7 linked regions of the Homo sapiens genome follow. The protein of the gene in region 1 purifies or fractionates together with the protein of each later gene. This does not show direct contact. Each region holds a gene or a part of one and is shown on either strand. Other genes may lie near its edges. The genes, in order: ZFC3H1, RBM45, MOV10, ANKHD1-EIF4EBP3, SLBP, CARNMT1 and FBXW8.

What was found.
Region 2: the proteins of ZFC3H1 (region 1) and RBM45 purify together in Homo sapiens (affinity purification with mass spectrometry; 2 studies listed by BioGRID and IntAct, with this or other methods). This does not show direct contact.
Region 3: the proteins of ZFC3H1 (region 1) and MOV10 purify together in Homo sapiens (affinity purification with mass spectrometry; 2 studies listed by BioGRID and IntAct, with this or other methods). This does not show direct contact.
Region 4: the proteins of ZFC3H1 (region 1) and ANKHD1-EIF4EBP3 purify together in Homo sapiens (affinity purification with mass spectrometry, with the first as the bait; 2 studies listed by BioGRID). This does not show direct contact.
Region 5: the proteins of ZFC3H1 (region 1) and SLBP purify together in Homo sapiens (affinity purification with mass spectrometry; 2 studies listed by BioGRID and IntAct, with this or other methods). This does not show direct contact.
Region 6: the proteins of ZFC3H1 (region 1) and CARNMT1 purify together in Homo sapiens (affinity purification with mass spectrometry; 2 studies listed by BioGRID and IntAct, with this or other methods). This does not show direct contact.
Region 7: the proteins of ZFC3H1 (region 1) and FBXW8 purify together in Homo sapiens (affinity purification with mass spectrometry; 2 studies listed by BioGRID and IntAct, with this or other methods). This does not show direct contact.

Annotation. Positions count from the first base shown.
Region 1 is NC_000012.12:71,636,349-71,639,848, reverse strand, and holds part of ZFC3H1 (zinc finger C3H1 domain-containing protein), read left to right. Parts: intron 1-365; exon of another isoform or gene 366-494; intron 495-1,333; coding exon 1,334-1,431; intron 1,432-2,789; coding exon 2,790-2,999; intron 3,000-3,194; coding exon 3,195-3,359; intron 3,360-3,500. UniProt on the Homo sapiens protein: Subunit of the trimeric poly(A) tail exosome targeting (PAXT) complex, a complex that directs a subset of long and polyadenylated poly(A) RNAs for exosomal degradation. The RNA exosome is fundamental for the degradation of RNA in eukaryotic nuclei.
Region 2 is NC_000002.12:178,115,437-178,118,936, reverse strand, and holds part of RBM45 (RNA-binding protein 45), read right to left. Parts: intron 2,676-3,500; coding exon 2,553-2,675; intron 883-2,552; coding exon 756-882; intron 1-755. UniProt on the Homo sapiens protein: RNA-binding protein with binding specificity for poly(C). May play an important role in neural development.
Region 3 is NC_000001.11:112,673,236-112,677,458, forward strand, and holds the start of MOV10 (helicase MOV-10), read left to right. Parts: upstream 1-1,423; 5' UTR 1,424-1,494; intron 1,495-1,502; exon of another isoform or gene 1,503-1,612; 5' UTR 1,613-1,677; coding exon 1,678-1,814; intron 1,815-2,255; exon of another isoform or gene 2,256-3,515; intron 3,516-4,223.
Region 4 is NC_000005.10:140,527,333-140,530,832, forward strand, and holds part of ANKHD1-EIF4EBP3 (ANKHD1-EIF4EBP3 protein), read left to right. Parts: intron 1-19; exon of another isoform or gene 20-96; intron 97-540; coding exon 541-690; intron 691-851; coding exon 852-2,464; intron 2,465-3,500. Other genes in the region: ANKHD1 (ankyrin repeat and KH domain-containing protein 1), read left to right, coding at 541-690, 852-2,464. UniProt on the Homo sapiens protein: May play a role as a scaffolding protein that may be associated with the abnormal phenotype of leukemia cells. Isoform 2 may possess an antiapoptotic effect and protect cells during normal cell survival through its regulation of caspases.
Region 5 is NC_000004.12:1,705,820-1,709,319, forward strand, and holds part of SLBP (histone RNA hairpin-binding protein), read right to left. Parts: intron 1-3,500. UniProt on the Homo sapiens protein: RNA-binding protein involved in the histone pre-mRNA processing.
Region 6 is NC_000009.12:74,980,290-74,983,293, forward strand, and holds the end of CARNMT1 (carnosine N-methyltransferase), read right to left. Parts: 3' UTR 501-3,004; downstream 1-500.
Region 7 is NC_000012.12:116,917,450-116,920,949, reverse strand, and holds part of FBXW8 (F-box/WD repeat-containing protein 8), read right to left. Parts: intron 2,420-3,500; coding exon of another isoform or gene 2,219-2,419; intron 1-2,218. UniProt on the Homo sapiens protein: Substrate-recognition component of the Cul7-RING(FBXW8) ubiquitin ligase complex, which mediates the ubiquitination and subsequent proteasomal degradation of target proteins.

The sequences.
Region 1 (3,500 bases):
GCCTAGTTCTTTGTCCTCCTGGATGATCCTGACATGGTGGGTAGCATGAACCAGCACATAATGGACTTCATCTTTCCTACCACTAGTTTCTAAAATTCATGAATGAAGGCTACTCTTGCTGAGGGCACCCTCTACCTTCCCACTGTCCTTTCAGACCCCCTAGTGGCTGACCCAACACAAAGGTCAGAAAGTCCTCAGAAGCCTCTCCTGGCACCTGGCAGTGAGTCAGGGCTGGTTAAATCTGGATGAGGATAGTGCAGCCTGGAGGGCTTTCCTCGGAGATCACTGCACTCACTAGGTCCACCCTCTCTCCCAGATACTAGGAAGGGAAAACATGCCAAGTCCATAAAACAATAGCACCATCAAGTGTCTGACTATTAAACATTCAAATGTTCATGGGGCAGAACACTGAGCATAGACATAGCCTCTCTTCTCTCTGCCACCTAATAACACAAATGTGACACAGCAGCCACATCTGCAGCGCTATGTAAAATGTTCCAAAGATTAGTGTATATTCAGATTATCTCATTTGGGACTCAAGTCAACCCCATATAAGGCATGTGGATAATAATGTATTGACTTGTGAGACAACTGGGATAAAGAAGAAATGTTAGATTTTCTCTGATTATATAGTTAGTGGGTAGGGTAGTAAGAGTAGTCTTTGAAACTGCTGTATTTCAGTGAGCCTAACAAGTCATTGAAGATAAAATACACAATTATTTTTATCTGCTACCAAGGAAGAAAAATGCTGAGATGCATCAATTGTAATTATTTCAAAATTAAAATGTGAAAAAATGTGCACCTTATTGACTAAATACACTAAGTAATTCTTCTCATTCCTAGTTTTATTTACTTTCAACACAGCTTATATGGTCCATGTCCTCAACTTTCTTTTGCTCCACAAGAAGGGAATAATGAAGTCACCACATCATTGTTTTCCTTTGGCTAGGGCACTTTGGCAGAATTTAAGGGAATTTTTTGTTTCATTATTTCTTAAAAAATATGCTTGTGTTTTTTTTTGTTTGTTTTTTTAAAGTATGTTTCTGTCTTTTCCTGCTTTATTCCCTGTTCTCATCATTAGGTTAAAAGTGGAACAAAGTGAGAGTTTTGAGGGACTAATTATTAGTTTAAAGTGAATGGCTGACTTTATGATGATATGACAATTTTAAATGGCTGGAGGTGGACTCATGAGGGGTTTAAAGATTTTATCAGAGGTTGATAAAATCTAATTTGCACTCCACCTAGATGTATTTCTTCAAACATAACATAAACTTAATATATTCCTGATGAAGTATTTCTGTTATTAAACTCTTAACAAAAAATTTTTTTACAGCTCCTTCACCAGTGCAACCGCCATTTTTCTCTGAATGTTCATTGGGGTATTTTTCTCCAGCACCATCTCTTTCTTTGCCTCCACCACCTCAGGTTTCTGTAAGTCAGAATTGATTTCTAAGAAAATTATTTTGTCTTGTCTTTTCTAATTTGTTTTTAAAAACGAATGGTTAGGTTTGAAGAGGGCTTAAAAAATCAGAATTGCTTACCAAGAATTAATAGCAATGAAATACGTAGAATAAACAGTTGATTATACCAGCAAGCTATCCATTTGGTAGATTTTTTTCATAGCTAATTTTTAATTTCATGTTGACTTTTCGGTACCTATCATGTTTCCTTCTTCACTTTACTCTCAGATAGTAGCTACTCAGAAAATTTATTCAAAAACAGAAGTTATCTACTGTTTTGGACTGTCTCTTTTTTAGGGAATTGGAATTTACATGCATTAGGATGCTTCTAAAAATTAATACTCTCCTTTCTCCTCTTTTCATAAAAATGGTTATTTTTAACTTGAAAATCCAGCAAAAGAAAAGCATTTTCTATGAAGTTAATTTCTTTTCCCCCCCATCTCCAGTCCTCCCACTAAAAATAAAACAAAAAAATAAAAACAATAAAAGGAAAAGGAAAAAAAGGAAGTAGAGGAATCACACATTAAAAGTTTTGACATTATTTTTAGATTGAGAGGACCTAGAGATCAAATTGAGTATCTCTCAGTAGGTGTAAGAGGGAACTTTTCCGTTTCAGGAAAGACGTCTAGTGTCTTTCTAGAACATATATGGTGAGGGGAATATTAGAGCCGATAGTGAGAGAGAAAACAGCACTTTCTTCGTTGTAATGTTTTCTTTTTGGGAATGAATAAATGAACTAAATGCCAAGGGAAATAGTGGAAGATCTTTGATGCAAATACATATCCAAATTTAGGGATTTGTGTAAAATTAGTTTCCTTTATAGATATTCTTTAAGAAGCCATTTTAAGAGAGTAGTGGTGATTCTTCTTGATACTTAATTAATGATTAAAGTACTCTGGACTATTATTCACAGAATCCCTTGGTTTCTAATTTTTATTTTTTACTGAAATATTATGTCTTGGGTTTCAGTACCTCTACTTGCTTTCAGGTAGTCATCTAGAAGGAAGGACCCTGTATAGTTTGATATCTATATCTTCTAGAATGCTAAATGGATATAAGAATTGGAACAGAGAAGTTTCTATAATTTTCCTTGAAGTTAATAAATGTTTCAAATATTGTTGATTTTTTTTAAAATTGTAAAAATAACACTTTTTCGTGGTTGGCTATTGATTTCTGGTTTGTTTTGAGGTTAACATATACTTAGCTTACTATATTTACAGCTAAAATAATAATGTAAAGTTTATTTTTTTCTAGTTTAATATTGCTGCAGAGAGAAGCATTTGAGTTGATAAAATTTGCGTTGTAATTCTTTCTTTTTTTAAAAAATAGTCTCTGCCACCTTTGAGCCAGCCTTATGTGGAAGGCTTGTGTGTTTCTCTTGAACCTCTACCTCCTCTACCACCATTACCACCTCTCCCACCTGAAGATCCAGAACAGCCTCCAAAACCACCTTTTGCAGATGAGGAAGAGGAGGAAGAAATGCTGCTTCGAGAAGAACTACTTAAATCTCTAGCAAATAAAAGAGCTTTTAAGCCAGAGGTAATTTAGGTACCTAAACCTCTAGGTGGTGCTCTTGAGCTTAGCTTTACGGTAGTCCTACTTTTTTCTGGTTACTTGGGCATCATTGGGCTTTTCAGCAAAGTGGGGATAATTCTAACATGCTCAAGATTTTTAAAGGTGGCAGAAATTTATTTTTATTTAGGAATGTTTAATGTCTTTCTCTTCCTTATGTAGGAAACATCCAGTAATAGTGACCCACCTTCACCTCCAGTTCTGAACAATTCACATCCTGTGCCAAGAAGCAATCTATCAATAGTCAGTATTAACACAGTGTCTCAGCCTAGGATACAGAATCCAAAGTTTCACAGAGGACCCCGTCTTCCACGAACTGTGATCTCGGTAAAAACAAAAATTTAATGCTACTTTTATTCAAACAGTTATGATAAATTTCTATGAAGTTTAGCTGTCCTGTTTTCTACCCCTTGGTTTATTTATATACACACATATATTCACATATAAATACAAATTTTTAAAATTTAT
Region 2 (3,500 bases), on another chromosome or scaffold:
ATTACTGCTAGCTAAATGAGAAATTTAGAAGGATCTAAGAGAAAATCTGGGTATGTACCTTAGGGGTATCTAAGAATTCTACTGATTAACAGTAATTCTTTCCAGTAAGTATATATTTTTATAATGTCCTAAAATCCAGTAATTTAATTACTCTACATATCATTTCTAAAGGTCAATATACCTAACTAGAAGTATACCAACAAAGAATATTCTCTTTGACATCTTTAAAATTCTTATTCTTTATATATACAGCAACATCAGAAGATCACATTCATGTCACTCTAGCTTGAAATTAACCCTATCTATATCAGTTACCTATGTTAGCACATCTTATAAATCTTACCCTTAACCTATAGGTTTATTAGTTATACTTTATAGTCTTTGGGATGTAGATCAAATATAAACAAATATAAAGAATATTTTAAAAACCTTGAAAAGGTAAGTCAAGTTTTTAATACTTAAAATTCTAAAATACACTTAAAAAACCCTAAAAACCTATAAAAATAATACCCAAAGTATGCATTTCACTTACTAAGTTAATGTAGTTGCTCTTATTTCTTCAAGATAGTGCCTCAATGAATGTTTAATCATAACCCCAAAATATTTTTCTTCCTTGGACTGTAAATATTTAAATACCCACTGCTAAAATTACATTAGCAGATACAGTTATTAGCAAAAACTAATATTAAATTCAGCTATTTAGAATAATCAGAATTTTTTACAAAAGTTTTTAACAATGTTAAACACATCCTTACTTCGATCACAGTTTTCTATTGCTTGGGCAGCTTGTGATGGTTTTAAGTATCGTACGTAGCCCAAACCTTTACTTTCTCCAGTCACTTTATTCTTAATAATGCTGCAATACTCGATATCTCCATACACCTAAGAGAGTTAAAAGACATGATTTTAGGGGACTTAAAATTAATTGAACAGAGTATTTCAGAACTAAAAATTTGTTTATATGTGACCCTTGCATGCAAACAAAGAAATAGGCAGTATAAAATATGCAGATATTGCATATTTGTATTTGCAAATATGCTTATTTCATAGATAAGGAAGCTGGGCTTTAGAGAAATCAAAGAGGGACAAAGTCACAGAAGAGTAAGAATTTGTACATGGTCTGGATAGCTCCAAAGTCTTGCTCAACAGTGGTTAAGAGCCAGAGCTCTGGAATTAAACTTTCTAGATTGAAATCCTGAATCAACCACTCATTAATTAGGCAGTTTACTTATTCTCTCTGTGCCTACCTCTTTATTAAAGAGGCTAGCAGTAGTATCTACCTCACAGGGTTGTTTAAGGGTTAACTGAAGTAAAACATGTGAAGTGCTTACATGGGGCTTGGAACATACTCAAAGAACATTAGCTATTATTACTTGTCTGTCTTCTAACAGGAACATAAATGATTGTGTATTCTTTTGAAGGAGTGCTTTTCAAAGGGTATTTCTAAAATATGCTGGTTCACTCAGAAAGTTACTATTCTGAGAAACATGCAGTAGTGTTTACTTTCAATGTTCAAAGAAATATGGAATATAATTGGTATTTATTATTTATTTTATAAATTCTTATGTAATCAATTAGCAACTTAATTACTATACATTAAAGTGTTATATTTGTTCATTCAGGAAAAGAAAAATTTATAAATATTTAAGGTAAAAAACATTTTCCTTACTACTGGAGGATGTATAAAATATACGTTTTTGGTATTTGTTATTTTTGAAGTATTTCATTGAATTCTCAATTGGGGTAGGAGAGAAAGTTTGAAAATTACTTTTTACTGCTTGTTTTCTTTCTTGCTTGTTGCCACCCAATTCATGGGAGGATTAGTAGAAAAAAGATAAAAAACTACAATTCAAAACAATTAAAAAATTGCTTTTTAATAATTTGTGTGAAAGCTCATCACTGCATAAGTTAATGGCTAAAAAGACATAAAATTATCCTCAAATTTCACTTATATAGGTCAGAGCTATATTTACGTTTTCTTCTTTAAATATAATTCCTTCAAAGGCCCAATTTTAGGACAAAAACTCTTCAAAGAATAAGCCTTTCTGTGAATGAGTACCATGTCAACACACCATAGGCCCGTTCTCAATACTAGATAATACAGTTCACACACTCAGGTCTGCCTGATTCGCCTCTACATGCCAGGCAATAGAGGGGAGTGATAAAAGCGTGCTTTGAAATTTTAAAGACCAAGAGCAGGCTCCAGACTCCGACAGCCTGGGTTTAAATCATAGCTCTACCACCTACTAGTTGTGTGACTTTACTTAAAAGTTTCTGAGCTTTATGCTTCATTTCTGCGAATCTCTACTTTCACAATAAAGTAGGGAGAGACTACCATTACTATTTTCCAGCTTTTATATATTCTTTAATTTTAAAAACTAATTTATGCTAGGTTTAATATTTAAAGAGTAGATTGAAATTGATGAAAGCAGTTATGTAATTCCCCAAGACTACTCTATTGACCTTATTCCAACAACATTTCAGATTTAGTACCCATACAACCTATGCAGGACTATGAGTTATCACATATGCTAGCTGATTAGAATAAATACCTTAAATTTTTCCCGCAGATCTTCTTCTGTGTAGGACTTTGGTATCATAACAAAGATTCTTGTAAGTTCTTCATCTTCAACATCTCGGTGACTTCCAGATGATCGGGACTGAGCAATGAAAACCTAAGAAACAAACAAAACTCCCAAAATAAAATAATGTCAACTATTTTCCCATTTCTTAAATTTTTTCAAAAGCAATTATTCTTGCAATGACTTTTTTTTAATCTTTGAGACAGGGTCTCAAAGAAAAAAAAAAGCAGGCTGCAGTGCAGTGGTGTGATCATGGCTCACGGCAGTCTCAACATTCTAGGCTCAAGTGATCCTCCCACCTCAGCCTCCCAAGTAGCTGGGACCACAGGCACACACCACCACACCCAGCTAATTTTTTAATATTTGTAGAGACAAGGTCTTGCTATGTTGTCCAGGATGGTCATGAATTCCTGGGCTCAAGTGATCCTCCCACTTTGACCTTCCAAAGTGCTGGGATTACAGGTGTGAGCCACTGTGCTGGGCCTGCAATGACTTTTTTTTATGAGATAATACCAATCTCTGCATTGTGTTTTTCCCAAATGTATTTCTACTTTTGCATTTATTTTTAGCCAGAGTAATTTGAAGAAACGTAATACAATTAATTAAAACACCATAAACAAGGGCACTTGCATTGTTTGTTTCTTTTTCCTTTAAAGGGGTCTCTATATCTTGGTCTCTGATCCACTGCTGGTAAAGGGGGCTCTGTATCATTAAAGCATGAGAAAACTGGAACTTATGAAATTCCACAGTAGGAAGCAGCAACCAAGAAAACCACAGTGTTAGAGACATATCCCTTTATAGTCTACTTCTAGTTATTCCTTCAATAAATCTATACTATATGTCAAGCACCATATGAGTACAACTATTGAGTAACATGGAAATGGCCCACTAGAGTCTTGTGGCTGATATCAGTAATAA
Region 3 (4,223 bases), on another chromosome or scaffold:
AAGTTCCATTGTAAACAAAGCCACATAGCATCACACTTTTTACCCAAGGTTTTACTATACTGCAGACTTTTGTGTACGTTTTGAGAACATCCAAGACATAAACCTGACCAGAGAAGAAGGGAGATTGTATCCAAGAATAATAGGGATTTAGATTTGCTGGTCAGAATGGAGCCAGACATTCAGTTTGAGTACGGTTGATGGTACGTTTTTGAGATGGTAAGTAACAAGGCAATTTTTAAGAGTTCACCCTCTCTATTCTTCTGGAACCTCATCAGGACATTGAGGGAGAAAAAAGGTAAAATCTTTGGCTGCTTTTCTAGTTTTTTCTTCTACTTTGCATAATAAGTTTGTAAGATGTTTTCCTCTGCCCTATTTTACCCATCCCCGTAGCTTTGGTTCCCACTGACATTGCATTTCCTGTTGCTAAAGCCTGTTATTCCTGGCTTCATTTGGTTGTTGGCCTGAGAGAAGGTACCGGGTAGCCCAGCTGGAGTATGACCTGGGTTCTGGACTTTCTTCAATTCCGTAGATTGAGTGTGTGGCCTCCTGCTGGTAGCTACTATGGAGAACAACACTAGCTTTGATTTATTTGAAAGTGATGTATTTGATTTAAAACTTTGTAGTGTAACTTAGCTTGTCCCATTCTAGTGTGTGTGTCATTTCATTCTGCGGGAAAAAAATAGATACAAAGGTTTGTTATTGTAGCCCCACCCCCTTAAATTTGTCTATACAGTCTTCTGAAGCACACTGCCCTTTTAGTTCTCTTCTTGGTACTGATGCTGTCACTATTAACCACTTATTATTGCCTAACACAACAGTCCCTTACGCTCAAGATGCTAGTATTTTGATGAATATAAGGGTCCACCTTATATACCAGTAAAAATTAAAGAGCAATACAGACTGGAATGCAACGAAGCGCCCAAATATGTGGCTCAGGGGTAAGGGTCGGTCACCAGCCTTTCCACATAAGCCGATGTGGCAGAGAAAAGCAATTACTGTGTATCCTGGCAGAGCCCCTTGTCCCTCCCTCCCACACGTACACACCTTTATCTCAGAGACACTGGGTTCTTTTCCCCAAACTTCTTTGACCCTTATGCCAACTACGTGCGTCTGAAAGCCCGAGAAGGGAAAATGGGGGAGGGGGCGTGTCGCCCCGAGTTTACGTCCCTGGAAGGCTGGGGGAGGCGCTGGATGAGCTTCCCCATTCCGGCCGCAGCCGACCTAGATCCCAGCCCTGCCCTTTGCTCTCCTGCTTTTCACTGAGTCCCGAGGCTCTGGAGGGTGGGCGTGAGGGTAGCCCTGGCTGAGGCTCGGAGGTCCTCCCGGGCTGTTCAGAGGGCCCCAAGCGGTAGCCACGTTCTGATACTGGCTAGAAGCCAGGGGAGGGAGCTTGGGGTAAGGGGAGGGCCCTGAGGGAGGGGTCAGACGCTTTAGGAAAGAGTTAATGCGAAGAGGGGGAGGGGATAGGACGAAGAAACCGAAGGGAAAGCTCAGGTAAGAAAAGAACGGAGGAGGGAAGCCTGGTGGGGAGAAGGGAGCCCGCAGGATCAGGGGTCAGAGTTAGGGGGCTTCCCTCCTGCTGCACCCTCATCTCAGGGCCGCCAACTTCCAGCTGCAGCGGCGACTTTCAGTTTCATTTCCACGGACCCTCCTGCCTGGGCCGCAGCCGCCGCCGCGATGCCCAGTAAGTTCAGCTGCCGGCAGCTCCGGGAGGCGGGCCAGTGTTTCGAGAGTTTCCTGGTCGTTCGGGGACTGGACATGGAGACAGATCGCGAGCGGCTGCGGACCATTTATAACCGCGACTTCAAGATCAGGTACGGGCCGGCCCACTCCCGGCCCCGAATCGCGGGCCCAGCTTGCTGCCACGACCCCCGCGCGAGGGCCACCTTTCCCGCCCCGGGGCGCAGAGGGACGCAGCTCCCCCAGCGGCTCAGGCCAGTCCCGGGGCGGCGCAGACCTCCCCTCCCGCGCCTCGCCCACGCCCCACCAGCGCCGCCCGGAGCCCGCCAGTTCTGCCCGAGCTGGGCCCCTGCGCCAAGTCGCCGCGGAGAGCCTCCCGCGCTGCCCGCGCCCCCGGAGGCCGGAACCCGGGGCCGGGAGCTGCGTCCCGCGTCCATGCGCCGCTCGCGGGGGCTGAGGGACAGCGCTCGCGGTGGGGGAGGGGAGCCTCCAGAGGGGGCCCAGGCATCGCGGGAGCGCGGGTTAGAGGCTGCCTGTTGGGGGCTGCGAGCCCGAGCGCGGGCTTTACAGGGACCTCTGCCACCTTGTTGAGGCGCTGCTGCCTCGGGGGTCCGCTATCTGGGAGAACTGAAGAGGCCCAGGGTAGAAGGGAGAAGCTCAGGAAGCTCTGGAAAGAAGAAAAGGGCACAAACTACGTGCGTACCAAACCTCCATTAGCACCTGTGGCTTCTCCATGGAGACCCAGGGGCAGAGCCAGCCTTCTGGAGGCTCCCTTTCACCCTGTGGCTGAAGGCTCTTTGGTCTCCTTTTCCTGCTACCACCCAAGTGAAAATCAAAGAGTCTTCTGTCACACCACAGAATTGTGCTTCAAAAACACGTTTATCAACAGGCTGCTGCCTTGCGTGGAAAACCAAGAAGCAGTTTAACAAGGGTAAACGTAAAGACTTGTACAAATAAACATAAGGTAGTGGGAATCTGGGCTTAATAACAGACCTCCCGAAAAAGACCTTGGGTTTTAGCAGACCAGAGGGCCAGTATGGGTGAGATATGGCTGCTAAAACAGCTGAAGTCTAAGATTGAGCTAACAGAAGTGTGATTTGGGGTGGGGGAAAAGGGTAGAGACTCTCCATATTGGTGAAATCGTGTCTGGAATATCGTTTTCACTAATGGTTATCACATTTGGAGAGGGATATTAACAGGCTTGAACAACATCTGAGAAGGGGCAAAGATGATGAGGCCCTGTTTTATGTCACCATGCTGGACACTATGGGGACTCTTAAGATGAAAAACACACAATCCCAGAGGAGCATCAGAGGCTATGATATGCATGCAATATACATGTACACAATATAGGATAGTACATGGTAAAATGGAGGATTATACTAGGGATGGTAAGAGAAAAATGCTGGAGGAAAGAGCGAGCATTTGCATCACATGGTATCAACACTTAAGGTATGTGAATTCACCTATATCCACAGAGTACAACATGGCTAGGAAACAAGTCACCTACTTCTTTTGGCTCTGTTAAGGAAAAAGTAATTGGTTAAAACAGTAAGGCTGACTTGACTCAAGGCTATGGTAATAGGGTATTGCAATAGGAAAGAAGAGAGTTGGAGCTCAATTCCGAATACAGCAAAAACAGCGGGGGATTTATGACCAATGAACAGAGTAAGGGGATCAATATATAGAAAATTACTAAGAGGAGTCATAAAGAGTGGGAGGATTTTTGCTCACCTGACCTAACAAGATTCTTGTTAAAGGCAGACCAAGGACTTGTACATCAAAGGCGGGAATGAGGAACTTGATCAGATATCAAGCGTGGTCATGCATCAAGGGTGAGGAGTCTCACTAAAATGACTTCAGTATTCTTGCTAAAACTGAACTAGGTGGGCCTAAGACTGAAGGGTTTGGGGAGGCAAGGTCAAGGGCTAGTCAAAAAGAGGGCTCAGGGGAGTCTAACAAAAGTTTGATCAAGGAGAGTCTTTGTCAGCTCTAAACCAAAGGTACATAGTATGTTTTAGTACTGGGGAAAAACTGGTTGTGTTGGATTGCATACAGAAAGCCAGATATACTGTATATTATGGGTGAATGTAGGCATTTTCCAAAGTAGTTTTTACTGTATGCACTTGTGTTTATGCAGATAAGATACCACTCCTCTGTAATCATTAGGGGATGTGATGGAGAAGATGGCATTGACTTTAGCCTTGAAAGAGATAAAATTTTAGTACATAGAGGAGGTGGAAAGGCCTTCTATGTGGGTTCATATTCTATCCTGAGACCCAGTGAAAGAAACTCAGAAATATTTGCCTCAAAAATAGAAAAATCAGACAGTACAAGGTAATTATCCTTGACTATTTTGGAGTGTTATAATGGATAAGATTGCACTCCTGTGTCACTCCAGAAGACAGAAGCGGGTTTCATCAACTATCCCCGCTCTGTACCCTCATCATGTTGGGGAAATGTATGTTCAGATTAAAGAACTTGCCTACACATCCTTTAAAGCCAGGCTGGAATGCTGTGAAGTCAACCTTCATTTCCCAGTA
Region 4 (3,500 bases), on another chromosome or scaffold:
TCTTGCTTTTTTTCTTTCTCATGTCTCAGTAATTCTAGAACTAAAGTACTAATAATCAACTTTAGATTCAGAATACATGTCAGCTCATCATTGACCTGAGGCTTTATTTTTTATTGCTAAGTATGAGCTGTTGATACTGGTTTAAAATGAATATGCTAGCATAGTTATTCTGTGTGGATTTTAATAATATGGTATTCATTATTTTAACAGGGTCATTGCAGTTTAGTTGATGTGTAATATTTTGGGCAGATTTGAATGCTTATATTGTGAGTGATTTAAATATAATTTTTGTTTTCAATGGCAGTGTAATTTTTAAAATTAGGTTCTCTGAAACTGCAGAGCAATGTAATTTTTAACTTTACTAAATTCAATTCAATATTACAAGAGATCAATTTCTAAAATAAAAACTTTTAATAATTTCCTCTTTAGCATTTAAGAAATGTTATTCTCCAAAATGTCCATGAACATACTTACTAAGACATCTTTCTTAATAAAGAGACATTTAATTTCATAAGCTCATGTGTATTCTTCATTTTATAGGTCAAAGAAATTGTCTGTTCCAGCCTCAGTGGTGTCGAGGATAATGGGAAGAGGAGGATGCAACATCACTGCAATACAGGATGTTACTGGTGCCCATATTGATGTGGATAAACAAAAAGATAAGAATGGCGAGAGAATGATCACAATAAGGTAATTGTGCAAAATGTATACTGCTAGTTCTGAGTAGAAATTATAAGAAGCATACCTTTGTCAGGTATGGTATAATTAAGAACTTTATTTGATGGTTAAGATTACCTTTTTTTTTTTTTTTAATGTTTTTGGTCTTGTTTCTGTTTTTTTTTTTCCCTTAGGGGTGGCACAGAATCAACAAGATATGCAGTTCAACTAATCAATGCACTCATTCAAGATCCTGCTAAGGAACTGGAAGACTTGATTCCTAAAAATCATATCAGAACACCTGCCAGCACCAAATCAATTCATGCTAACTTCTCATCTGGAGTAGGTACCACAGCAGCTTCCAGTAAAAATGCATTTCCTTTGGGTGCTCCAACTCTTGTAACTTCACAGGCAACAACGTTATCTACGTTCCAGCCCGCTAATAAACTTAATAAGAATGTTCCAACAAATGTACGTTCTTCTTTCCCAGTTTCTCTACCCTTAGCTTATCCTCACCCTCATTTTGCCCTGCTGGCTGCTCAAACTATGCAACAGATTCGGCATCCTCGCTTACCCATGGCCCAGTTTGGAGGAACCTTCTCACCTTCTCCTAACACATGGGGACCATTCCCAGTGAGACCTGTGAATCCTGGCAACACAAATAGCTCTCCAAAGCATAATAACACAAGCCGTCTACCTAACCAGAACGGGACTGTTTTACCCTCAGAGTCTGCTGGACTAGCTACTGCCAGTTGTCCTATCACTGTCTCTTCTGTAGTTGCTGCCAGTCAGCAACTGTGTGTCACTAATACCCGGACTCCTTCATCAGTCAGAAAGCAGTTGTTTGCCTGTGTGCCTAAGACAAGTCCTCCAGCAACAGTGATTTCTTCTGTGACAAGCACTTGTAGTTCCCTGCCTTCTGTCTCCTCTGCACCTATCACTAGCGGGCAAGCTCCCACCACATTTCTACCTGCAAGTACTTCTCAAGCACAGCTTTCTTCACAAAAGATGGAGTCTTTCTCTGCTGTGCCACCCACCAAAGAGAAAGTGTCCACACAGGACCAGCCCATGGCAAACCTATGTACCCCATCTTCAACTGCAAACAGTTGCAGTAGCTCTGCCAGCAACACCCCGGGAGCTCCAGAAACTCACCCATCCAGTAGTCCCACTCCTACTTCCAGTAACACACAAGAGGAGGCACAGCCATCCAGTGTGTCTGATTTAAGTCCTATGTCAATGCCTTTTGCATCTAACTCAGAACCTGCTCCATTGACTTTGACATCACCCAGAATGGTTGCTGCTGATAATCAGGACACCAGTAATTTACCTCAGTTAGCTGTACCAGCACCTCGAGTTTCTCATCGAATGCAGCCCAGAGGTTCTTTTTACTCCATGGTACCAAATGCAACTATTCACCAGGATCCCCAGTCTATTTTTGTTACGAATCCAGTTACTTTAACACCACCTCAAGGCCCACCAGCTGCAGTGCAGCTTTCTTCAGCTGTGAACATTATGAATGGTTCTCAGATGCACATAAACCCAGCAAATAAGTCTTTGCCACCTACATTTGGCCCAGCCACACTTTTCAATCACTTCAGCAGTCTTTTTGATAGTAGTCAGGTGCCAGCTAACCAGGGCTGGGGAGATGGTCCACTGTCCTCACGAGTTGCTACAGATGCCTCTTTCACTGTTCAGTCAGCGTTCCTGGGTAACTCAGTGCTTGGACACTTGGAAAACATGCACCCTGATAACTCAAAGGCACCTGGCTTCAGACCACCTTCCCAGCGAGTTTCTACTAGTCCAGTTGGTAAGTTATTAACTATTGCTGCAGTTGAGTTTGGAGCTCCTATGGCCTAATCTCACCTTAAGTGGACAAAAAAAGTAGCAAGAGGTAAATCAGTCACATATAATGAGCTGCTTTAGATTCTCTCTATGATTTTTCTGTCCCTCATAGTAAGGAAGTTATACCATAGTGTAAGTCCATTTTCTTGGAATTGGTGTCTATTCATATTAATAAAAAAAACTCCAGGGATGTTTCAAGGATTCCAAATTTACAGACTTAAAAAAAAAATCATAGTGATTGTTTGCATTTCTTAGATTTAAAAAATTGAAGTTGCAAAGGTGTTTAGGCACAAGTTCATAATTTACATTGTTTAATAGTACTCTTGTTTATTTTAGGTATAGCTATTTGTTTTTTATGTATTTTATTTTTTATTTTTATTATTTTATTTTATTTTTTTGAGACAGGGTCTCACTCTATCACCCAGGCTGGAGTGCAGTGGCCCAGTCTCAGCTCACTGTAACCTCCGCCTCCTAGGCTCAAGCATTTCTCGTTCCTCATCTTCTCAAGTAGCTGGGACTACAGGCATGCGCCACCATGCCCGGCTAATTTTTTGTATTTTTAGTAGAGACGGGGTTTTGCCGTGTTACCCAGGCTGGTCTCGAACTCCTGTGCTCAGGCAATATCCGCCTGCCTTGGCCTTCTAAAATGCCAGGATTACAGGTGTGAGCCACCGTGCCCAGCCTAGATACAGCTATTTGAAGAGACCCAGTCATTTATAGGCTCTTACTTTTGAAAGACCAGTGTAGATTTAGCTGTTGCTTCTTTGAAATTATAAATTAGCTGCCGAGGCATTATGAGAAATATATAGACAGATCTGAGGTCAGTTTTGGCTTGGAGATATTTGGAGAACCAGAATCTATTTTCTATGGTTTAAGAGCCAAATTTTAGTCTAATCTGCACTGTTCTGAAAAACAAATTAAAAATGTGGCCGACCCAGAATATGGCACTATTGCCTCTTAGCATTTCTCTTCCAGTTGGAAAACTGCCCCATATTCCATGC
Region 5 (3,500 bases), on another chromosome or scaffold:
ATCTCCAAAATAAATAAATACCCAAGCATGGTGGGGCGTGCCTGTAGTCCCAGCTACACAGGAGGCCCAGGCAGGAGGATCACTCTAGCCCAGGAGGTCAAGGCTGTGTGAGCCATGATCCTGGCACTGCACTCCAGTCTGGGCAACAGGGCAAGACCATATCTCAAAAAAATATATATGGTGGCAGAGGACAGTGGCTCATACTTGTAATCCCAGCACTTTGGGGACGCCGAGGCGGGTGGATGACCCAAGGTAAGGAGTTTGAGACCAGCCTGGCTAACATGGCGAAACCCCATCTCTAATAAAAATACAAAAATTAGCCAGGTGCAGTGGTGCGCACCAGTAGGCCCCAGCTACTAGGGAGGCTGAGGCAGGAGAACTGCTTGAACCCCAGAGACGGAGGTTGCAGTGAGCCGAAATTGCACCACTGCTCCTCCAGCCTCAGCAAGAGACTCCGTCTCAGAAAATAAATAAAATACAGAATAGCTAGCATATCCATTTACCTTTCGGGCGCATGTAATTAATAATTCAGAATGTTATGTACACTATGATTACAATGTGTATGGAGGAGTATATGTCAGAGTCCTTGCTGTGTCAGGACTCCGTCTACTGGCAAAGTACCCCCTGTGCTTGAGTTAAACCACATCCAGGAGCTCAGTTCCATCTCAAGTTCAAGATAGTCTTCAGTCAATATTGGGAAATTTATGGCCAGGCAGTGGCTCACTCCTGTAATCCTAGCACCTCGGGAGGCTGAGGCTGGCAGACTGCCTGGGCTCAGGAGTTCCAGACCAGCCAGGGCAACATGGTGAAACCCAGCGTCTACCAAAATACAAAAACTTGGCTAGGCGTGGCAGCGCGTGTCTGTAATCCCAGCTACTAGGGAGGCTGAGGCAGGAGAATCCCTTGGACCCAGGAGGTGGAAGTTGCAGTGATCCACCAGGCGGAGTTGCAGTGAGCCGAGATCGTGCACTGCACTCCAGCCTGGGGGAGAGAGACCCCGTCTCAAAAAATAAATGAATAAATAAATAATAGTCCGGGCGTGGTGGCTCACACCTGTAATCCCAGCACTTTGGGAGGCCGAGGTAGGTAGATCACCTGAGGTCAAGAGTTCAAGACCAGGCCGGGCGCAGTGGCTCACGCCTGTAATCCCAGCACTTTGGGAGGCCGAGGCGGGTGGATCATGAGGTCAGGAGATCGAGACCATCCTGGCTAACAAGGTGAAACCCCGTCTCTACTAAAAATACAAAAAATTAGCCGGGCGCGGTGGCGGGCGCCTGTAGTCCCAGCTACTGGGGAGGCTGAGGCAGGAGAATGGCGTGAACCCGGGAAGCGGAGCTTGCAGTGAGCCGAGATTGCGCCACTGCAGTCCGCAGTCCGGCCTGGGCGACAGAGCGAGACTCCGTCTCAAAAAAAAAAAAAAAAAAAAAAAAAAAAAAAAAAAAAAAAAAAAAAAAAAAAAAAAAAAAAAAAAAAAAAAAGAGTTCAAGACCAGCCTGGCTAACATGGTGAAACGCTGTCTCTACTAAAAATACAAAAATCAGCTGGGTGTGGTGGTGGGTGCCTATAATCCCAGCTACTCGGGAGGCTAAGGCAGGAGAATCACTTGAACCTGGGAGGTGGAGGTTGCACTCCAGCCTGGGCAACAGAACGAGATTCCATCTAAAAAAAATAATAATTAAAATTTAAAAAATAATAATCAGGAAATCCAAAAGCTTAAGGCTTCGAGCCCCAAATTCTGGCAGTTCAAATTGATGTATCTTATTTATACATCAGACATAAACTCACATTTTTATTTTTCTACCCCATTTTTCTGTTGATCACTACTGACATTAAAACTAGATACTGGGCCGGGTGCACAGGCTCATGCCTGTGACCCCAGCACTTTAGAAGGCTGAGGCGGGCGGATCACAAGATCGGGAGTTTGAGACCAGCCTGGCCAACATGATGAAACCCTGCCTCTACTAAAAATACAAAAATTAGGATAGGCATAGTGGCTCACACCTGTAATCCCAGCACTTTGGGAGGCTAAAGCAGGCTGATCACTAAGTCAGGAGTTCGAGACTAGCCTGACAAACATGGTGAAATCTAGTCTCTACTAAAAATACAAAAATTAGCCAGGCGTGGTGGTGCGCACCTGTAATCTCAGCTACTCAGGAGGCTGAGGCAGGAGAATTGCTTGAACCCGGGAGGCAGAGGTTGCAGTGAGCTGAGATCGCGCCACTGCACTCCAGCCTGGGCGACAGAGCAAGACTCTATCTCAAAAACGAAAAAAAAAAAAAAAAAATCAGGCGGGCGTGGTGGCGCATGCCTGTAGTCCCAGCTACTTGGAGGCTGAAGCAGGAGAACTGCTTGAACTTGGAAGGCAGAGGTTACAGTGAGGTGAGATCACACCACTGAACTCCAGCCTGGTTGACAGTTATGCCCCGTCACAAAAAAATACACTAGATACTAACTTTAATTACAACAAATAAGCAACCTATTTTAGCTGTAAACCAAATGCTGTGCTTTGAAAATGCAATTGCAGTAACAAATGAATAATCCTCTTATGTAATTATCATTTCTTCCCTTACAGTCACACAACTCAGATAAACTTAAATTGGATTTCTAAAAGTAAATTTCCAGATTCTAAAAATGGTAGAAAGTTATGAAATCAAATTAGGTAATTAACTGAAAATTAAATTGACTCAATAGAGGTTTGTCCAGGATTGGATACAAGCATCCTCACTAGTGTATCAAGAGGTTCAAGTCTGGGTCTGCCAACATAACAAATTCCTGAACTACAAGAATAATTTAAAGCCTGTGTATGTGAATGACCATATACTACATGCCATATTTTGGTATCTTTAAGTCCATTTCTTAGATTAAGTAGGTTATATTCATAATCTACCCTATCTTGGGACAACAAAGCCTAATTTTACACACTAAGCTAACAACCTTCCAAAGAGTACTTCTAGATCTTATCCATCAACGAGCTGGCTCTATTTGTCAGGTGCCTCCAGGCATTATCCACAATGTGCAAATACCAAGTGCAAAGGCCCTAGGACAGAAGCATTCCTATAGTTTGAGGAATGAGGACACCAAAAACTTCCATAACTTCTAAAGCACTGTAAGGATTTAATATTTTTATCTTCAGCTAAATGAGACCACTGGAGAGTTCAGAGCTTGATCTCAATAAGGTTTGTTTACCTTCCCTTCATATCTGGACCTAGGGCCTCTTCTGTACCCACCCGTAGACCCAAGTCTTTTGTCTTTTTTTTTTTTTTGAGACAGTTTCACTCTTATTGCCCAGGCTGGAAGGCAATGGCGTGATCTCGGCTCACCGCAACCTCCACCTCCTGGGTTCAAGGGATTCTCCTGCCTCAACCTCCCGAGTAGCTGGGATTACAGGCATGCGCCACCATGCCCGACTAATTTTGTATTTTTAGTAGAGATGGGGTGTTGGGAAAAAGGCTTATCGAGTGCCTGTATAAGCTGGCCATAAAAATATGGCACAGTAAGTT
Region 6 (3,004 bases), on another chromosome or scaffold:
AATTTTACTTATGCCCTCACCCATTACCTACTATTATACTTCATTATAATTCCCAACAAACTTTTGGAATCTGTATCTGTACCTACCATTTTTTACTGTTTTCCCCAGGATTCCACGGAAATCTTTTTCAAAGGGTCACTGTAAGATAATTAAAACTAATGTCCTGTTAACAATCCTCATTTTTTCCATCACTATATAGCAGTCAACACAGACTGAAATTACATTTATGGTAATCGTCTATCATGTGCTTTCATACACACAAAAATATATATAAAAGCTCATATGACCTAATAAACCATCTGAAATAGATGGTATTAATCCTCTCTTACAGATGAGGAAATAAGCCAAAGAGTGGCTTGCCTGAGATCACAATCATTCAGGAAAATGAACCCAGAAGATCTAAGTGCTCATCCCACTGATGGCTGGTCCTAGAACTGTCTTCTACTAGTTCCTTTTATAGTTCTTTTTCCATTATTTAACAAAACTGAAAATCAAGATTATTCATTTTCCTCAATGGATTCTAACTTTATTACAGTGAACTTGAATGAAACAAAGTGAAAATAGTTAGTATAAGGCCTGGCATATTATAAGGCGAAGTATTCATGTTACTGACTTCTTAGAAGCATATAAAAATAGGCTAATCCAAGAGTTCAAAAGTATATATGCTCAACTCATTAAAATCCCCACATCTATAGTTACATTAATTTAGATGAAAACCAAGCAACTATCGTTTCATAGCAATTGGCAGACTTTAATATTCAAGAAAAATTAATTTCATCATACACATTAAAAATATAGGAAATTTCATGCAGACATGAAGCTTCCAATTCAGCTTTTGTGGCAACTTTTAGAATGAGAGTTACATATAAATACAGTACATTTTACAGTTACCAAACTTCATAATTTTATACTGTGATTTTTACAGCTTCTCCTTATATTGTACATGTTCCACCTTGCTCACTTGATTAGCATACCCTATATCTGCACTGCTTCAGAATATAGAAATTAAACAAAAAAACATAAGCACAGTGGACTATCTCCTCCCATTTCATAAAGTAAATGAAAATGTTTGTGTATAAAGCTAATTTAAGAAAAACATTTTAAACTTTAAGGCTTACATACTTTAGTAGCTAGGACTAAAATTAAGAAATACAAAGCTAAATAAATCCTCCAGTGATACTTCTATTATTGATTGATACCACATTTTCAAGTTTAGAATATATTAACTGCAAAAGCTGTAAGAAAAGAAGTGATGCAAATTTGTATAGAACATTTAAAAAACAATATTCATGATATGAGGGATAAATTAACAAATGAAGTAACTGATTTCAGAATTAACTAAAACATATGCTATAATTTAGAAATTTAACATTATTAAAGAAAACCTAATAGAAAAAAAATTAATTAATAAAGCCAACCCACCAGTGTCAACCTGTTTTTGCCTGTGACAAAAACAAAGATCATTTGTTTTGATACAAGTTGTAAAAAAGTGAATACTAGTCAGTGAATAAAAAGCATGTCTAAGCCATTGAAAAACAGCATGCATTCCTTTCTGTTCGATTGATTTTTAAAAAATACTTATGTACTTTGCAAGTTTTCTTCTTTTAAAACAATAATTTGAGTTTTTTTTTTCTTCCTTGCCACTAAATTCAAACTCATTCATGTAAGTAATAAGAATTTCCACCAAATGAACATCTGCTAAGTATTGAGGGACACAAAAAAGAGAAATCTTAAAAAAAAAAAAAAAAGGTTACAGTCTTCCCAATTTTGACATGTCAGATTAACTACATGAAACCCTCTATTGCATAGTGAGAGTAAAGGTCACAAAAGTCCCATCACTGTACACGGAAAAGGTCCCCCCAACTAGTAAGATGCCAAATAGGGTAGTGACTCCCCAGCCTAAGTGACAACAAAGGTCTAAAGATTTACAAGTAACTTTTCCTATTAAAACATGACATTTATGCGACCAGCACATTACTGAGATTAAATCCATCTAATTTAAATTGCCACAGAGGTCATTTAAAGCAATCACAATCATCTGTGAAAATATTCAAGAAGAGTTCTTCCTTTTCTCCAAGAAAAGGCTAAAACATTAGTCATCTCTACTTTCCAAGCTACTGGAAACAGAATATCATACATTAAAAAATACAAAGGAAAACTCCCTCCAATAAAGATCTGCTAGAGGTAGAAATTTAAAGCAGCATATACTGTTTAAGCTCCATCTATCAGGGAACAAAATTGGTATTAATCTGAAATTACATGATGGCTGCTGCTTACAATATTGAAGACACAGACCACGGGCAGTAATATATCCCTGAATTTCATAATCAAAATTCCCCACATTAATACTATTATGACAGTTTTTCCTAGTATATAATTTTTTTAATGAAAAAAGTGCTTGCTTTCATAATCCAGATATTCTAAAGAAAAGACATTATTGTAAACATCACACTGTCAAACTCTGTATTCATTTAGAGTCTGAAAATCACATATTTCAAATGGGTAAATTTTATTCTTATTTTCTCTGTTTCCTAGCACTACTTTTAATAAAGGCTTTTTATTTCTCACTTTGAATGTTGAGATCTCGTATATTTCAAAGTGATCCATGATGAGTATGCTTTCATAAAGTGTTCAGTTTATTGTGGCCAAAAGACTTTGATATTTCTGTTACTTGAATATATTTTACCGGCCTGTGATGCTATTAAATTTAACATTTCATAAAAAAGAAATGTTTGATGCTTCTTTAAGTTCATCTGAGCCAGAAAATACAAAATTAAATTAATCTGAATGATAAAATAGACACAGGCCAGGCGCGGTGGTACATGCCTACAGTCCTAGCTACTCAGGAGGCTAAGGCTAAGGCAGGAAGATCGCTTGAGTCCAGGAGTTTGAGGTTACAGTGAGCTATGATCGTGCCACTGCACTCCGGCCTGGGAGACAGAGCGGGATCCTGTCTCTGAAGAAAAAAAAAAAAAAAGACATATTTTACGCATAGTTTTCTTAG
Region 7 (3,500 bases), about 45 Mb from region 1:
AGGAGAGAAGACAGGAAGAGGAGAAGCTTCAGGTCCCAGAGGGGTACCACAGTGGGTGTGGTTTTTGAAACCACAGTGGGTTTGTGAAAAGAGTAAAGATGTTCACATTAAGGGTCCCAAACACTGCAGGCACATTCCCACCATCAGGATTGGCTATAGAATTTGGGGGGCCTGTTGGTCACAAATGATTAAGATCATTACAAATGATCAAGGCAACAGAGCATTAAACTAAGTGCGGGTCCTGGTCACCACAGAACCTTTGCACTTGCCCGTCTTGGCCTAGAATCCCCTCCCCCAGATCTCTGTATGTTCACTCCTCACCTCCTTTAGGTTCTCCATGAAATGTGACCTTCCCAGAAAGACCCTGTTGGACAGCACTATTTAAAATTACAGCCCCTCCCCTGGCAGATACACTCTATCCTGTCTGCTTATTTCTTCTCCAGAACATTTATTTATTACCTGACAATTATTTGTCCATTGTCTAACTCCCTCTTCCCCAGAATGTAAGTTACACAAGGGCACAGGCTTTTTTCTGCCTTGTTCAATGCTATATTCTCAGTGCCTGGAACAGTGGCTGGTACCAAGAAGACACTTAATAAATATTTGTGGGATATGAATGAAACCCAAGCTGCTTCAAGCAGCAGACCGTTCCAACAAAGACCGCATGTAAGTCACAAGTTGTTCTAGTATACACAGGCATCATTTCAAAAGGTTCGTAAGTGGAGGCCTGCTAATTCACGAATAACATGAAAAAATGAACAGCACTGAGGATAAGAACTTTTTAGTTGGGGGAAAGGGAGAAATTTGGGCTGGAGAAATCACGGAAGAATTAACACAGGAGACAGAACTCAAGCTGAGCTTTAAAAGGCAGGCAAAGAACAGGAAAGAGGAAAGGAAGTTATTCCAGTTAAGTCAATTCATGAGTACACATTTGGTTTGGTTTGCTGTCTCACTGCATATTAGCCAGAAGAAAAGTGTTCACATTAGGGAGCTTACTTATTTGTGTTTAACTTAAAAACAGAAGAAGGTTAAGCCATTAAATCTATCTTGTTGGCAACACAGATGCAGGATCTGACAGGTTAAATATTGACATGGTGAGTGATAAATATTGGCCAGCAGTATTAAAACTTTCAGCAGACCTAAAACTCCATATCTTAACCTGGAAGGATGCTTTGAATGTTCAAGGGTTCTAACAATCATAGAGCCTTTATAAAGTCGCAGTCAGAAGCAGCAATTTTGCCCACATTATTTCAACTCAACAAACATAGATAGGGCCCCTACTGTACTAGTAAGGCAGGTGGAGTTAGAACAGTAAGGCAACAGATCCTGCCCTCCAGGGATTCACAAGAGGCGGAAGCTAAGGGCTTATCGGTGATAAGCTTCAGTAAAGAGGAAGTAAAATAGCATAGCAAACTCTGAGTACTAACGATAATGGCACCAGCTTACATTTATTGGGCCCTTACTGTACTCCAGGCTCAGTGCTAAGTTCCATGCCTATTTCATTGCCTCTTCACGAGATAGGTACTAACATCATCATCATTTGACAGCTAAGGCAGGGGAAATTAACTTGCCCAAGGCAAACTGGTAACAGCAGAGCCAGAATCTGAACTCAGGTCTGCTTGACTGCAGAGCCCAGCCCCATAGCCAAGACTGTCCTGACTCCATTAATGTCATTCTTTTAGTTAAAAGAAACAAGACTTTAGGCTCTCTGAGGACAAGGAGCCATTCTGTTTACTGCTGATTCCCCAGCACTGAGCTGATCAATGAATATATGTTGGATGAACAGAAAACACAGTCGTCCCCCCTTATCCGCGGTTTTGCTTTCCATAGCATCAGTTACTTACAGTACAGTATTATGAGAGCCCACATTCATATAACATTATAGTATACTGTTGTAATTGTTCTATTTTGTTGTTGCTGTTAATCTCTTACTGTGCCTTGTTTATAAACTTTATCATTGCTCTGTGTATATAGGAAAAAAAAACATGGCATATACAGGGTTCAGTACTATCTGCATTTTCAAGCACCCACCGGGGGTCTTGAAATGTATCTCCAGTGGATAAGGTGGGACTACTGTATTCTCAGTTAGTGCTGCGTCACACACCCACCTAAAATGGATATCAGTTATTGCTCTTTTTTCCTGCCCAACATCCACTTCCTCTATTTAGGAAACCATCCCACTCCCACTCTTAGTCAACACAATTTAGGCAGAGCTGACCTCACCTTCATCTTCAGGAATGGGCAATGGATTCGAGTCTGAACAATTTGAATCAGTGATTGGCTGAAAGGTGGACACATGACCCAGTTTGCAGCAATGGGAATTTAGGTTCATGACTTGCAGCTCTCTTTCCCTTGAGTTGCTAAGCAGATAGAAGACTAGAGTTGCTGGTAGCCATTTTTCCCCAAGAGGAAAGCCTGTCTGTGAATAAAGTCAACAAAAGGAAAGCAGGATTAAGAGAAGGCAAATCCTACTTACCTTAGGTAAGCACCCAGAACAAACATTACCACCTGGAATTTTCAGTTACAGGAATCAATAGATTCCAGTTTGGGTTTTTAAGCCAGTTTGGGTTGGGTGCTTGTTGCCTGCAGCCCAGAGTCCTGATACACCACCTAAATAAAAATGGAGCCCAAGCAAGTTGGTATCACAGCCACTCCACTGAAGAAAGCAGCACACTTGCAATTATACTCAGGTATATCCACTATCTCCAAGAAGCCTGGGTTTATGAACAGAGGAGAAGAGAAGACAACAGAGAAAGTGCCTACTGCCTCTGAAATTCTGACCAGGGATGTGTTCTTTCACTAGTTTACTTATACTAAGAACTCTATCAGGTGCCAACTGAGGTATTCCCAACTCATCACCTAAAAAGAGATGGCTGCTAAGTGCTATTACTAAAAGCTTCATAAAACATGAGGCTTGGGAGGAGTCCTGCGTTGTTTTTTTTTTGTTTTTTTTTTTTTGAGGTGGAGTCTTGCTCTGTCACCCAGGCTGGAGTGCAGTGGCGCAATCTCGGCTCACTGCAACCTCTGCTTCCCGGGTTCAAGCAATTCTTCTGCCTCAGCCTCCCCAGTAGCTGGGACTACAGGCACGTGCCACCACACCCGGCTAATTATTGTATTTTTTAGTAGAGACAGGGTTTCACCGTCTTAGCCAGGATGGTCTTGATCTCCTGACCTCGTGATCCATCCACCTCGGCCTCCCAAAGTGCTGGGATTACAGGCATAAGCCACCATGCCCAGTGAGTCCTGCGTTTTCATGTCAGCTTTGCTTGCCCATCAGAGGTTCTGGCCTATACCAGCCAGATGACACTCCAAGGCAGCACTGCTCACCTACCCATCCAAAGGCAACTTCACTTTTGATTGCTAACTTATTAGTTGTTCTCTCTCTAGTGATGGATACTGAAGACTCTGAAGTGGAGGAGACTGCACCAGAAATACAACAGGGTGCACTAATGAAAGTGCCAAAGGTTGGAGAAGAAACGGGGGCAGGGAGGAAGTGTAAG